Regions from separate parts of the Homo sapiens genome. Here region 2 is linked to region 1. The links come from fine-mapping of genetic effects on gene expression. Tissue or cell type: neutrophils. Region 1 holds a variant in brackets; the other region holds the start of a gene. All regions are shown on one strand. Distances are from middle to middle.

Evidence for each region. PIP is the estimated chance that this variant, and not a neighbour inherited with it, causes the effect.
Region 2: it holds the start of CLEC1A, and the variant in region 1 is fine-mapped to the expression of CLEC1A in neutrophils (BLUEPRINT, PIP 0.95). The same link has a PIP of 0.9 or more in whole blood.

The regions. Positions count from the first base shown.
Region 1 is chr12:10,066,210-10,074,399 of GRCh38, forward strand. CLEC1A (C-type lectin domain family 1 member A) reads right to left here. Exons shown (of 6, transcript NM_016511.4): 5 at 7,084-7,202; 6 at 3,345-5,304. The coding sequence ends at 5,124. Among named protein-coding and RNA genes, the nearest start is that of CLEC1A, 29 kb to the right of the region's middle. The variant T/C (reference allele first, on the strand shown) is at 3,978.
Region 2 is chr12:10,094,602-10,102,791 of GRCh38, forward strand. CLEC1A (C-type lectin domain family 1 member A) reads right to left here and starts at 4,384. Exons shown (of 6, transcript NM_016511.4): 1 at 4,207-4,384. The coding sequence starts at 4,321.

The sequences.
Region 1 (8,190 bases):
TGACATAAGCAGAAGGAATAGTCAGGATGCCAGGATCAGAATGTTCTCCAGAGAATTCTGTGAATTCCCTCTTTCCTCTCAATGACCATGCCTGGCATTCGCAAACCAAAGGGCTCATGGTCTGGTCCCTCAGGGTTAACACGCCAACACTTTTGATTACGTCTTTCAGTGCCTCGATTGCCTCATTGTAAAATAACAGCAGAACTTACTCCAAAATATTGTGTGAGGAGTAGACTGTAAATATATGTCAGTGCTGAGAATAGTCTTGCACAGAGTTGAACACTCTATCAGTGCTTGGTTTTGTTCTCTGGACTACACCACCAATCATCTATACACATCAACCTTTATTTGTGCATCCCAGGCAAAAATGATCCCTTTTTTTGCTCCTCTTGGAGGGATATTCAGAAGTTAAAGTTTATGTGTAAAATGTCAGCAACTCTCTGGAGAGAATATCTGCTTTAAAGTTAATGGATTCTCCTCAAATAAATCTATAGACATTCTCTGCCCTAAGTCTGTAGACTCCCTGAAGCATGGACTATCTTATTCCCTAGAGACCATTAATAGCAAAGAACCCTGTGATCTACAGAAAGAACAGATTCTTTAATTATTATTATATTACTTGTTACCACTTACGTCCCTGCAAGAACGCCGTACCACATAGTAGGTTCTCAATAAATATTTGCTTAATTCAGTATAATTTTATTTAATTCTTCATTTCTCATAAAGAGGAGCTGAGATTCATTAGATTATCATCTTTTCTTCCTAAGCATAAAGGCATCACTTAAATATATAAAGTAAAAAAAAAACCTAATTCTCTGAGTCACTGGAAATCATTTAAATGAAACTAAATATCCTCTTACCTAAATGTCCTTTTACAATGGGTAAGGTTGTGTAAGGATGAGAAGAGCATGTTTTTGTTTATTTACCCTTGACCTAGAGTTTAAATGTGGGAGTTTAAGTAAAAGAGATTTTTCTCTAATTTTCTGCAGAACCTGAAAAAGGAGAATAGCAGAGAAAACACAGCATATATTGTCTCCTGTGTTTGATTTTTACAGCTGACAGCTGGCAGCTGAATGTAATAACCTGGAATAAAGGAGAAACAATAGTGGAATTTACTAGCAAAGACTGTTTGCCTTAAAGATTCTTCAAAGTATTGTCATGGAACTATGTTTAGAGGAAGGATACGAAGCACTTATAATCATTCTTTAAGAAGTACAATAAAGCAAAAGGCAAACATCCTTCAGCTGATGTCATCCCGTAGTGTATGATGCAGTATTTTCAAATTAGAATTTATCTACAGCGCAGCTGACTTCAGCTCCTACAAATCTCCTCAGCAGCGATGCTACTTTCCACACAGATGCTATAGTTGGGTGATTCTTCTCTGCAGGTTGCTTTTGGTCCAGGATACCAAGGCTTTTCAGATACAACACTGAGTATGCCAGTCTTATATCCTAGTCCCACCAACAATGAATTGGGCATCTTAGATCTCTTTCATTGAGTTCTAAGTTAGTCTTAAACAAACGAAAAGAAAACTAAAAATAAAACTATCCTGCAAATGTGAAGAGTTTTTTTACATGTTTGGTTAAAGTACATTAAATGTATAAAAAGTATACATAATAATATTGGTAGAATAATAGTAGATACTATTCGAGCCTAAAAATCTATTCATATAATGAAGCGTGTACAAAAGTCACGCAGACTTTAAATCAGAGGATCCTGATTTGTTTGTAATCTTCAAATACTGTAAGAATCTCTCTACAGAGGAGTTGACTCCCAAATATTAAAGCTGGCCCAGAGACAACCTGCTAACCTACTAGACTTTTCTCCTTGTTCATAATGTGTTTGTATCCTCAAAATAAAAGCTCCCCGTTACTCTTCTCACACTTCCTGCTGTTACAGGGCTCATGACCTGTTTCCTGTTGATAAATCCTGAAAGCTGGTTCAATATCCTCAGGAAAAGAAAGAGCTTATTGTGTACCGGAGATCTCAGCTCTACCAGGAAAGGCTGGGCTCCTCGTTTGACTGTTCCTGCAATTTCTTCAGAATTACATAAACAAGAACCTAGAAAGAAAAAAGTCTCCTCATCCAGAAAAACCAGTTCATACAGTGCCCCTCTCTGATTCTCAACTGGATATTGTTCTTAGCAAATCAGATTTTAAAATTCACTTTATCATTATGTCCTATTCTTAATATCATTTTTCTAAAGTGTGTAGTGAGAATGCTATGCTATACACTTTTTTCTGTTGTTTTGAAATGTTTGTTCACATTGTGATCAATATTGTGAGTTTTGCTATAAAGACAAAGGGATTAAGGGGAAACATGAAGAATAAACTCAGGGAAGGAGCTGAAGTATGTCAAATGTATGCTATTTTTTCCTCCTCACAATCTAAAGTGACACTATCCCTTAGTCCCAGACTTGGAATGACATACCATTCAAAACTCACTCTAGGCAGCTAGACCCTTCACATCAATGGCACTTAAAGAGTGGCTTGTCATCCATCCCTGAGCTAGACTGCAGCCACATAGGATGCTAGGAGTCAAAACTTAAATGAGTGCATGTCTCTGTTTTACAGCTTAGTCCACAAAATCATTTGACTTCCTCCTATCAGTCATATTTTCTTTCTGTAGCAACAAGGCTTACATAACAATTGCTTAACTGCAGGCTTACTTCTCATTTCTTGTTATGTACCTATTATATGAACTACTTTCATCGAAAATCTGCACTCATCATCAAAAATATTTGGTAATAAAATCCTTAGCTCCCCAAAGTAGGTGCCCTTCTACAATTTGTTCATAAATACAGATTTCCAAAGAAGTTTGTTGTTATTAATAAATCAAGTTTAGCCTAACGCTGCCTTTTTACGTATTTTAAGTTTAGCTTAAAGGATTCTCTGTACATAATGTCAACTATAACAAGTTGAGGGGTAAACAGACCCTAGTCTATACTTGTGCCAATCACTGTGCTTTGGCCAATCAAATGTAGCCAACTGTTTGAATTGTGTTCAAATAAGGCAAACTCCGAGCTGTAAGCAATCCAGCTTTTTCTGTACCTCACTTCCGTTTTCTTTACTACGTTTTCCTTTTTCTGTCCATAAATCTTCTTCCACCACATGGCTGCACTGGAGCCTCTGAGTCTACTCTGGCTCTGGAGGCTGCCTGATTTGTGAATGAGTCATTGCTCAATTAAACTCTTTTAAATTTAATTGAGCTGAAGTTTTTTTCTTTTTAACATTGCTTATGCATGTGTATGTGCGCCCCTATATTTAAAAATAAATCACTAGATCCTTTTAAAAATATTTTCTTGACTTCCCTTACATTTTTTATTGCAGTTCACATTATGAAACTGATTTCACATTTACTTTATTTCAGCTAACAGTAACATTATGAGGAAATTATAATTATTTCTACTTCATATGCAGTGAAATAGGTTTCATGAAGTAAAGTGACTTGCCTAATAAGTAAATCAGAATAAGAGGTCTAAAATCTTCATTTTCTAACCACAAATACAGTTTTCTTTGCATGACACAATATATCAACAGAACTTGCTCGACCCTGAAGAAAATTTTAAGGAAATCAACAGAAAATTGAAAGGAAAGTTCTCAAGGAAGAATCCGCAATAGTCTTTGCTAAGTGACAATCTAACAAAATGAAGTTTATGAAAATGAGCACCAATGTGTTCTTTCTATCATATGATTGCTACTATACGTCATTTTACCATGAGATAGATGTTTATGAAAAACAAAACTGAAGCACCTCAGTTTCCACTGTTGAAAAACAAAGATTTATAATGTTATCTTTTCTAGCATAAAACCCTCAAAATTGATTTATCAGTAAACCAATAAACTTGGTGGCTGTGATGGTGTCATTCCCAATGATCCCTGTTATATTTGTGCATGGAGTCGTCTCAAGAAAGAAGTGCCTCACAAAGGAGCAGCTACAAAGATGTCACTGTCTCTGTTCATTTCCCATGACCTGAC[T/C]GGAAATCATGTGCACTAATGCAACTCAGCTTCCTCATCAACCATGTGTTGATGCCATAAGCTCACCTCAAAAGATTTCATTTTAGGAAAACGTTAAAACTGTTTTCTTGAAGCCAACACGTATTTCAAAGACATCTTATTTTCTCCAGATAATCATGTAATCAGTACTCTTGTAAATTCCCCAAAAACTTTCAGTAAGGCACAATCAAAATAATGACCGCTATCATATTTTGAAAAGCATTTCCATGCTGAATTTTCCCACCAACCATAAGTCCATTGTAAAATCACACACACTTCACAGTATTTACATTTATTATTATTAAATCTTCAGTACCTGAAAGGTATAAATATGGGTCAATGGAAGAAAATAGGAACTGAAACTATTACAGGTGCAGATGAAGAGGCTCACTTTTTTCTGGTCTTTAATCTCTCTGAAGGGAATATCGGGGACGGTAGTTCTGATATGAAACGGAGATGGGGATATATTTCTTTCCTGGGAGAAATTCCTATGGAGGGGAGACAATTATCAGAGTCTTAATGGACACAGGAAGGAATGCTTATAAGGCATTGAGATTTGAGATTCTCATATCAAGTGACATCCCTGTTGGGAAACGGCATGGACAAGGCAGATGGGGTCTTTACTGATGGATTGGGAAGGGACTAGTATGAACTGAAACAAACAAAAAGAATTCCTTGTGTATTTGCTGGTACAATCTGGGAAGTGACTGCCAATTTCTGATGGACTACTTGACTGTCAGAGAAAAGGATGTTACCTCAATGTATTTCCTCTACTTCAAAAAGTTTCTTATTCCACCAAGTGTAAGGAAGACATGAAAACAGGGAGGTGATATTAGACATTGAGAAGAAAGAGAGCTAAAAGTTATCTCTAAGCCAAGAAGGCAGATGACATTATGGGTTTCTGAGGTTGGTTGGTGGCATGTAAATAAGACTTCTTGTGACTGTTAAATACGTGCATAAACCCAAGCTCAGAAATGCTGGTGATCCTGAACAGGAAACACGAGAACCCATTTTGTACTAGTCAGAGAGATAGTCTTTCCTGATTATGTTCCATTTCCCAATGTCTCAACTAGCCCTTGCTTTGGCACCGCCTGGCTCACTCTGCTATTTGTAGTTGCAGAGGGCGAATCAGTCACCTTCGCCTAATGTTTCAGGGGGGACATGGAGGCTCTCTGGCTTCACCATTCCTGCCCTTCTCTCACAGACACAACGCTTCAATTCTTTGCAGTCCTTTGAGAAGATCATCCCATTAAGGATGGCCACACAGTCTCTGCTTCTTGGGCTGGTGACATCTATTATAATATGGAACCTTAAGAAAGGAAGAAAAAGTAAATTCAATCACGGTTTATTTCTAAAATAAAATATTAAATACCCATTCTTTCTAGAGTTATAAAATTATAGTCTAGATACCAGAATAAGTTTACCGGGAAACTGGGGTCATGTGCCTCTTTCTCTTCAGCCCCTAAGTTTCCATACTCATTCTTAGAAACAGCAGGTCACCCCAAACAGCAAAAACCATTTCTAACTAAAGCGAAGCTACGTGTTCTCCTCCAAATTTATATAGTGTTTCTGCCACTTAAAAAGTTCTCTACCTTCTCTGTAACTCAGTTTACTTAACTGTAAAATACAAATGATTACATCAAATATATCCTGTCTCCTGGGAGAATAATGATATATTGTATATAGGGAAGAATGGTGTCTGTTCAAATATGGCTTTAAATGTGATATATTTTGATAGAGAAATTACAATTTCCTCTTTCAAAGGATACTGATGTGGTTTGGATGTGTGTTCTTTCCAAATCTTAGTTGAAATGTTATCCCCAGTGTTGGAGATGGGGCCTGGTGGGAGGTGTTCGGGTCATCGGGGTGGATCCCTCATGAATGGCTTGGTGCCCTCTTCTTGGTGATGAGTGAGTTCTCACTCAGTTAGTTGATGCAAGATCTGGTGGCTTAAAAGGGCCTGGAACCTCCCCCCAGCCCCTTCTCTTTTGTGTTCTCTCTTGCCATTGGACATGCCAGCTCTTGCTTCGCCTTCTGCCATGAGTAAAGCTCCCTGAAGCCTCCTCAGAAGCCAAGCAGATGCTTGTACAGCCTGCAGGATTGTGAGCCAATTAAACCTCCTTTCTTTATAAGCTATCCAACCTCAGGCATTCATTTATGCTGATGCAAAAATGGACTAACACAGATACCATATGTACTCCTGTCTAAATGCTCACAGCATATGTACGACTAGTGTTTTATATTACCCCTTACATTTTCAGCAAATCTTTTCTCAGAGATTGTGTTTTTTAAAAGATGTGCTCCCTATTTTGCTGCACAGAAAGCCAAGAACTCTTATGCTATCTCTGGGTACTGACAAGTTGTGTGACTTTAGGCAACCACCATTACAGCCTGGACTCCTGGGCTTCAATTTACTCACTCAGGGAAAGATCTCTCTCTCTCTCTCTCTCTCTCTCTGTCTCTCCCTTCTCTCATCTGCAGTATGTCCCAGACACAAACTTCTGAAAGCAGCAAGAGAACTACCCTGATATTTTACTAATGCTATGTATCTGTCTCCCTCACTGGCTTATAAGCAGTTCAAAAGCAGGCACTGGCCGGGTGCGGTGGCTCATGCTTGTAATCTCAGCACTTTGGGAGGCCAAGATGGGCAAATCACTTGAGTCCAGGAGTTCTAAACAAGACTGGGCAACACATCATAATCCTGTCTTTCCAAAAAAGACAAAAAATTAGCTGCATGTAGTGGTGCACGCCTGTAGTCCGAGCTACTCAGAAGGCTGAGGTGAGAGGAGAGCTTGAGCCTGGGAGGCAGAGGTTTCAGTGAGCAGAGCTTGCACCACTGCACTCCAGCCCATGCAACAGAACAAGACCCTATCTCAAAAAACAATCAAACGAACAAACACACACACACACACAAACAAAATGAGGATGCACTATTGTTCAAATATCTTCAGGCATCCTCCTGCAAACACAGTATCCAGTACAAAGCAGAAGTTTGATTAATACTTGATGGACCAAATTCTTGAGCTCTATCACTCAAGCAAAATATCTTTGTTAAATGCCTTTCCCATAAAATATCCTGAAGGCTTACAGTTCAGAAGTGAAAGGGGTTCCATCCATCCACAGCCAGGCCTTGCCACTGTCAGGGCGCAAAAGCCCTGTCCAATAAGAGTAGAAAAACTCAGAGTAGCTCTGAGACGCGGCAAATTCCTGTGAAAAGCACATAAGAAAAGCTTTAGCTTTGGTGGCATGATTACTCACATGTACAGACATGCATGGGCCAGCCAGCACTTTTCTCAAAGCACACACAAGTCCTGCTTCACATTGATGCTCATATGCTTAAGAGAAAAAGCATCTATGCTGAGGCCAGTCAGAAATTTGTCCAGGTTTAATAACTTATTTTGTCTTAGTAAATATGGAACACATGTCGATATTCTGAAAGCGGAAATCACATCAACCAAGATTTGTTCCTGACCCATGGCTTTTAAGGCACAGAATTAAACATTAATGTTGACATAAAAATATGAGGGAAAGACTAACAAAGAGATGCAGAATGATTCTGGGACATGGAAGAATATGGAGGGAAAAGTGCAGGAATGAGGTAGTAACCGTTATAAATACCTGGGAAAGGAAGAAAAAAAGTAAAAGAAAAATTTGCAAGGATGATTTATGTCTTAGACTAGGAAGAGAAGAAAGAAATTTTTAAATTTCTATCTATAAATATTTATGTGCACACATGTGTATAGTCCTATACATGGTAATCCTTTTCCCAATATCCATATTTAACATATGTTTACATTTTAAAAGTTGTTTACTTACTTCTATCTAGTCTCACTCTGCACTCCTAATAGATATTTTTGGAGGATTGGTGGCGACAGGGTCTCACTCTGTTGCCCAGGCTGGAGTGCAGTGGCACGATCATAGCTCACTGCAGCCTCAACCTCCCCAGGCTCAGTGCACTCCTAATATTTTAACATAGAAATTATCTAAATATTTATTATAATTATCCATTTAAATAATGAGTTTCTCAAGGCCGTACACTTTGTTTCATTGTTACATCCAAAACCCCTCAGATAATTAATAAAATATACTGATTTAATGAGAGATTATTGAAAATGTAAATGAAGCTATTACCAAGCAATAGTCGTAGAGTGAACAGGTGAAAATAACTGTAGTTGAAAATATTTATTCCAATTAA
Region 2 (8,190 bases), 28 kb after region 1:
TACCCAAGCTGACTGATTCCAGAGCTGGACATTTTCAATCATCTTCCTATCCTCCCAACACATCTCAGATCAATATTTATACATGGCAGTGCATCTGGAATCATAGAATGACAGCAGCTTGCAACTTTTCCCTTCTACATTATGAAATGTCCACTCTGCCAGCAAGATGAATTCTGAAAGCATAAATTTAATCATACTTCCTCTCTTCCATAGGAAGAAGTTTCCCAAGGCTCTTTCTGTTTTAGTCAGTTTCTTAGTGTACTGTATCAGGCTCCTCCTAATAGGATCCCATTTTACTTCTTAGCCTCATGGGTCCAGATCATGTCACTTCCTCTGGGAACTCGCAAAACTAAACTCAATCAGTAACTCATTCATTCCTATATTGCTTCTGCGGCCTCCAACATTGATTTAATAGCACTAAATGACATTTACTACAACTATTGATTTAGAGTATTCCTTCCACTTCTCTAAGCACCTGAAAAAGAGGCTCCTCTAGTACATCCCATAATGTCTTGTCATTAGTAGGTTTGATTTAAAGAGTTGTTGAATCAGTTAACAGCGATTTATGTCATGACTGTGATGAGGGATTTATGCTGTAATTGAGGAAATAAAACTAAAACGCTGGGAAATTCAATAGTACTGTAATTAATGTGAACAAGGGAAAAGAGGAACTTGAATTTATTATTAAATTTTTTAAAATTATTTAACCAAAGTAATTTTTCATATTCTTTTGATAGGATAAAATTTAGTCTCTGGCAGGAATCTCAGCCTGTCAGTTATTTCATCCTCTCTCCTCTTACTGTACTGTTAATGTGAAGTTCTCTCCCTGAACTTATTTTCAATCTACAATTGAGTTAGAATTTCCCACATCTTAAAAAATCATTCTTAAAATCTGTCACCCAATGCTGTAATACCTCAGCAATAACCCATTTTATCTTCAAAAAAAAAGAGAGAAAGAAAAAGAGAAAATGACTTAAATTGTTTATTTTATTATGTAACCATCAGTTCCTTTTCAAACCACTGCTGTCAAAACTAAATATTTTCCTCCTTATTGATAAATTGTTAAATAATCATTTTAGTCTTCCTTTCGCTTAAACTCTCTGCAGTATTTGTTATTTGTTGTTTTTAAAACTCACAGTCATTATCATTGACTTTTCTAAAACTCTTGAATTTATTGTCCTTCCATTACTCTAATTTTCCATTACTCTTGAATTTATTGTCTCTTGATGCCCTTGTTGTCTCTCTCCAAGACTCCTGCTTCTACCACTCTCTGCTATTCATCCCTGGTAGCTCCTTTTGGAATCTTTCATTCTTCTTGCTCCTCAGGTGTTGATATTCCCTCAGATTATCTCCTTGACACTCTCTTCTGTTCATTCATGTTTTCATTTTACATTCCTTCCCTCAGTGATCTCACTCACTCTCATACATTTTAGTTACTAGCCATTTATTTGACTTAATGACTTAGGTACCTCATTTACTTTATTTATTTAATTACTATGCCAGTAATTCCCACATGTCTATGTAGCCCAACCCACATCCTGCATATACGGGTGTCTTTGGACAGCTCCAAATGCATGTCCCTCCTTCTGCAGACCCCTTAAACTCAAACTCAATTCATCATCTTTCCTGTCCCTTCTATAGTTTCTGTCTCAGTTAACATCAGCACCATCTACATTACATCAAACAGAACCTAGTCAACCTACCACCGAAGTCCCTTTCCTTGTCTCCTCACATGTAACCAATCACCGATTATCTAAACTCCAACACCTCGACATCTTTCATATCTGATTCTTTTTCCTTATTTTTACTATACTGCCTCAGTTCAGGTTTTTCTACCCTTGTACTGGACTAGTGGAAAAATTTGGTATCAGCACATGCAGTTTCATATACCTTCAACTTATCATTTCCATTGCAGCCAGGAAGGTCTTTCCAAAATGCAAAATTTTGTTTCTCCCTATCTAAATCCTGCATTGACTTCATTTTAACTATTGAATAGAATTAAACTAGATCAGCATGCCCTAAAATCCCTCCTTAACTTGCCAGACTTACCCCTTTGCTAAGTTTCCCTCCTCCAACTCTACACCTACGCCATACATATTGCTTATAGTTCTCTAAAAATACAAAGCTACTGAAAACCTTCATGACTTTCCCTTCATACGTCTCTCTGTCTATAGTGTCCCCAGCCTCTCAAACACCCTCACTCCCGATTCCTTATTATGTGGAAGATGTTAAAATTAACTCAACTCCACAGTTGCTCCTTCTGTTAAGCCTTTCCTGAACTCCTCTACTTAATTAGGTAAAAATTAAGCCGAGAGCTTGGTTAAGCTCTCGGCTGTACTGTACATGCTTCTGCCATAACACCTTATTATACTTACTCCTTAGTTGAGAATTGTATTAGACTTTCAATTTCCTTATGAACAGGGACCATATCACATTGGACATTATATCCTCAGTACTAGGATAACATGACCCCAAACATAAGTTTGTGAAAAATGTATGAGGTTGTTGTTTTTCATTTTCACTATCTTAATTGTTTGGCATTTTTACTATCTTAATTGTTTGGCATTTTTAAACACAAACATAGTTGTTACGTCAATTGTTATTGACAAAAGTCTAGAAATTAAATGAATGTGTGTGTGATTTATTTTTATTAATTCTAAAAAATAAAAGTTGCCAGCTCTTAATGGTATCACATCATTATGTTGAATCTGAATCCTCCACATTGCCGAAAATTTCTGAGTGATTTCTGCTGTTATTTTTATCAGCGAAGGTATATCAGATATGTTTATCTAAGAAATAATTATACTTCTATGATGGTATTCCCCTAAATGTTTGTATTACCATAAAAAGATGAAAACAAGATCTCATATATGTTGCCTAAGATAACTATTTCCAGATGATTTCTTCCAAGACAATTCTTTGTAATCTCCACTTCTACTGTTTCAATATCCATTTCTTACAAAGAAGCTCCCAGATGTTGCAGCTAGTGTTTTATCTTGCTCCACCTCCCTCTCCACCCTTCAACCTCAGCAGAACTTATTTGTACATGCTGTTCTTAATTATGCTGATCTCTAGTCCTTGACAGAGTTCCTGGCTCCAGTCAAAGGTGGAAAATGAAGTTATATACAAGCTACTCAAAACCACAGCCGTAAAAATGGACTCTTCGTAAGTTTTTTTGGAGGAAAACGCTTTGTATCCTATTACACATATCCTGTGGCTACAAAAGCTGACATCCCTACTTTTGTCACTTAGCTTCATTTCAAAGAGGTTGGAAATCCCCAATGTCCCTTAACAGCTTACTGGGTAGTTTAGTTAAAAAAAAAAAAAGCCATATTAGTAGGTTTCAGGTGGAGGGTCATTTAATAAATAGAAATAAATAGAAAGTGAATGGAGGGTTTAGTAGGAGAAAGGAAGGAAAACTAAAAGTTATTTGATAAAGAAATAAGGAACAGGATAGTTTTTTTTTTTTAAAGGTATATCCAGATTTACAAAGGTGAAGAAAACAATGATATAATCAGAAGGGAAAGGGCATATTAAAACACAGGCACTGAATGAATGTTAAAATGTGGGATTCCTTTCAACATTCCATTTCTTAAGAACCTAAAGTGTTCCTTTCAGCAATTTTGTGTCAGTCTATATCAGATCAGACAGACATTCAAATATTTTACATAATTTATCATTCTCAGTACTCACAACCACCTTGTAAAGGAAGTTTTATTACTTCTATTTAATATTAAGTCAAGTTAATATGAATTAATATACTTAAAGTATTTAAAACACTGCCAGCACATAATGAGCCCTTTATACATGTTTGTGGCCGTTAATATTTTATAAATAAAGAATATGATGCTACCAGGATACTTAAACAACTCATCCAAAGTTACACAGAAGGAAAGTGGCATACCTGGTTTAGGACCTAGAACCTAGTCCTGTGTATATTACCATGTGAGTCCTTTTCACTAGAACTGAAGTCATATTTTAGCTTTAGATTGGCTGAGTGGCCCAGGAAATAAAATCCTTCTCTAAGTGTGGGAATTATGGAACTGAATATAACTGAAAAAAAAAAATCACTACTATGTCACAGGGCGAGTAATTGGAAATAAAATTATAAGATGCAAGCTAAATATCTCCATTTCTAGGAGGGATAGATCATCTCACACATTTCACAAGGACTGTGGTCTATTTGGACTCCAGGAGACAGGGTACCTGTGCGCCGGGGCTCTGGATGCCGAGTTGTGGCAGAGCCTTGAGAATGCAGGCTCATGGTGGTGTCCCCATCATCATCCAGCATGTCCCTCGTGCTGCTGTACTTGGCCTGCATCTGGATTCCTACAGCGGTGAGAGTGAAATGTGGTCGGATTGCCCTGGGCCGCCGGGCTACTGTGAGCTAGTTCAGGAAGCAAGGCACTAAAAGGCATTCCTAATGTTCTTTCCCAGCGAGGGGCAGGGAAAGTCTCTGACTGCAATTCCTGACTGGACAGGCCCAGCCCCTCTCCTGTGAGCTTGTACTCTGAATGCCAAATCAGTCAGGCTGAGGGGAAATAGCATGTGTTTTCTGTTTAGGCCGTCTCAGTCTAAACAGTTGTCAAAAAGTTGGCCTTTCTCAGGTCTTTTTTGTTTACCTGTTTGCATTTCTCATGTAACTTCACTGTAAAGAAGGCAAGAACTTACAATAGCACGGTGTAGCACTGTGGTTCCTTCAGAGTCTGCAGAATAATAATAACTTGGAAGGACACACATCCCTGTTTCTTACCCATCCTTTAGGGAGTCACTTAGTTTAACCTCTCTGTGTCTTTGTGAAAAGAGAAGAGATTATAGGACCTAGCCCCTTCCTTTCTCCAAGAACAGAGTAGTGGTCTTTCTTATAGTATCTGAACTTGATTCAACATTTTATAGCACATTTGGTACATTATGATCACGAGGAATTATACAATTTACTGGAAGTAAAAACTTTTAAAACTATTACTAACCACCATGTGGTTTGGGGAAGCCAGTTCATTTGTGCCTAAATCTCCTAAACTGAGAAGAAAATGTTTTAGGTAATGTGAAAAAATTCTTCCTGAATCAGTACATTAGAATTATATTCCCATCTTAGTCTGTTTGTGCTGACCTACAACAGGATACCTGAGACCAGATAAATTATAAGCAATAGAAATGTATTTCTCAGCATTCCAGAAGGTGGGAAATCTAAGATCAAGGCACTGGCAGGTTTGGATGTCAGGTGAGAGCTGCACTCTCTGTAGAGGAGGAAGGGTATTCTCACGTGGCAGAAAGCAGAAGGTCAAGCCAGCCAAATGCTACATGTAGCGTCTTTTATAAAGGCCTTAATACCATCCTCAAGAGAGAAGACTTCAAGGACTAATCATCTCTTAAAGGCCCCACCTCTCTCAATACTACCACACTGGCAACACCTGAATTCTGCAGGAAACACATTCAAACCATAACAAGACAGGTATCAGTAACAACCTTGTGCCTTTGGGAGGACAATTAACAATTTGCATCTACATTTCCTAAACTGAAAGACAAGAAGATTGTTTTAGATAATGTCTAAAAGTTCTTCCTGAATCTGTACAATAGACTTATATTACTCTACCAAAACTTTTCCAGATGTTAGGTGATAGGTGGGCAAAATCAAGCATGCTAAATATAAAGGAGTGTCAGAATGCTCCAGTTGGGGTAGCCAGACCATATAAAAGATCTATGAGGAAGTGCACATTGTGGATTCACATGTGTTTCAAGCTGTTTGTTGTTCATCAAATTATTCTAAATTTTTTAAAAATTGGAATTTTTTTTTTTTTAGATGGCAGATTGGAGGCAGTGTTAGCATGACTCTACCACTTGGAAGGACAAAATAGTGAGTAAAAAATTCTCACTGTGGGCCAGCCATGGTGGTCACGCCTTTAATCCCAGCACTTTGGGAGGCTGAGGTGGGTGGATCACCTGAGGTCAGGAGTTCGAGACCAGCCTGACCAACATGGCAAAACCCCGTTTCTACTGAAAATATGAAAATTAGCCGGGCGTGGTGGCGGGTGCCTATAATACCAGCTACTGGGGAGGCTGAGGTAGGAGAATCACTTGAATCCGGGAGGCGGAGGTTGCAGTGAGCCAAGATCACACCACTGCACTCCAGCCTGGGCAACAGAGCGAGACTCCATCTGAAAAAAAAAAAAAAAAAAAAAAACCTTCTCACTGTGAACTCTTTTCCCAAGAAGCAACACAGGAACTGAACAGGAAAACTGAAAGAATCCACAGACTCTTTGAAAGAAGCAGCAGGTTATACCTACACCATGAGCTAGGTGAAAAACTGTAAGCTCCCAGGGTGTGTGAGGTGAAGAGACTGGCTCCAGGATACATACCCCCACAGGGGAACCTGAAAGTCCATGCCATGGGGGAAGGCCTTAACCCGTCCCAGCACTGGAACCAATTAAAAGAGCAGTGATGAATATAAAAGTAAGAGCAGCAGCAGGAAGAGGCTTGTGTGCATTCCCAGTCTCCAGCATGAGCCAAGGGAAACTATTCCTTATGCCTCACAGACAACCTCACGGAACTCAGCCAACTAGCTCAGCCAGGGGTTGCACATTGTAAAAACTCCCAACTGAAATTCACAATATAACCTCAAGTGAAATGAACTCCCTTGGCCAGAACCAGAAAGGTGAGTGGGAAATGTGTTGCAGCCGTGAGTGCAGGATCTGGGTGCCAGCTGTGTGGGTGGACAGAGAGGGGCATGGCCTGAACGCCAGCAGTTGCTATCACCACGGGAAAAGTTTATGGCCTCAGGCAGTTGTGAGCTCTGAGTGCAGACTGCCTGGAACTTAGCTCACTGCTGCTAGCAGAGTACTGCAGGAGCCAGATCTGCCTTGCCAACTGTGTGACATCTGGGTTAGGCTTACTGCTGCCTACTACTCCCCACTCCCTGTGCAACCACATCTCCAAAAGGGGCCGCTGCTTGCCATGCACATGGTGACTCAGAGTGCAGACCCACCTAACACAGCCCTCATCTGGCTTTGCCCCTCCACCCACCGTGGTAGCTTAATACAAAGGACAGAAACCCTGGGGAGATTTATAGCCCCATCCATCACCTGAGAAGCCAGACTACCTACCCTGGGCAACATAAGGCAAGCACAAATCCCACTGCTACTACCACACCTGATACTCTTTTGCAAATGCCACCCAGTAGCTGGAAGCCTACCAACACAGTCCATTGCAGCATCTGTAGGTGGAATAACACTGCACTCAAGAAGGACAAAACTACTGTGTGACCTCAGCTATTACCACTTCCTGCACTACCCTGTCTAACCAGGAGGTCCTGAGTCTATCCACATGACCAGTTTATTACTACCTGAACTAGCATTCAAGAAAGACAACACACTAAAGTTATCTATAATCAAGGAATCTCACAGGTCTATGTCACGCCTCTGGCACCCCCATCAGACCTGGTGCTGATAACAGCTGCTGGAAAACTGGAGGACAGGTCATATCACTGGATCCTTAGCAGACATCCCCCAGCACTAGTCTGGAGCCACTGAGTGGCTAGACCCTGAGGAGCAGCAGCACTCATAGTAGTCTGTCTCTCAGGAACTTCTACTCCTAAGGAAAGGGAGAGTGTGCCACATCAAGGGAACACCCTGTGTGAATAAAGAATCCAGATGGCAGGTCTTAAGGATTAGATTGTTCCACTGGTGGGAAGTTTCTTTCAATAGAGGCAGAATTGAAGTGCTGGGCTCAGCAGGGAATGTCTACAGCTGTCCCAACAGTCAGACAGCCCTGGTGCTTATCAAGGATCTTGGAGAAGGGGACTTCTTACCAACCTCGTCCACCACTGCAGACACAGCTGGGTCTTCTCCCACAAGAGCTCAGCATGGGTGCACCCATAGACAGACTTTGTAGAACACTTCAGGGTGACCGCAACCCCACAGGGGAAGCAACCCTCCAGTTTCAGGCTTACATAAGAGGCAGAGTCACAGTTCTCTACTTGGAGCACTAACATTCCAGCAGATGAAAAGAGAGGCCTGTCTGATCTGAATAGCCAGAATATTGGGACAGATGTGAGTCTGGGAGATGGATAGCTTCCCAGCTGACCTGACAGGGGAGCTAAGGTGGCTACCACCCTTCCCCTGATAAGACTTCAGTGTGTCTCCCTGACAGCTCCCCCAGCCCCTTTTGTCAAGGCTGAGACCTCTGCCCACCATT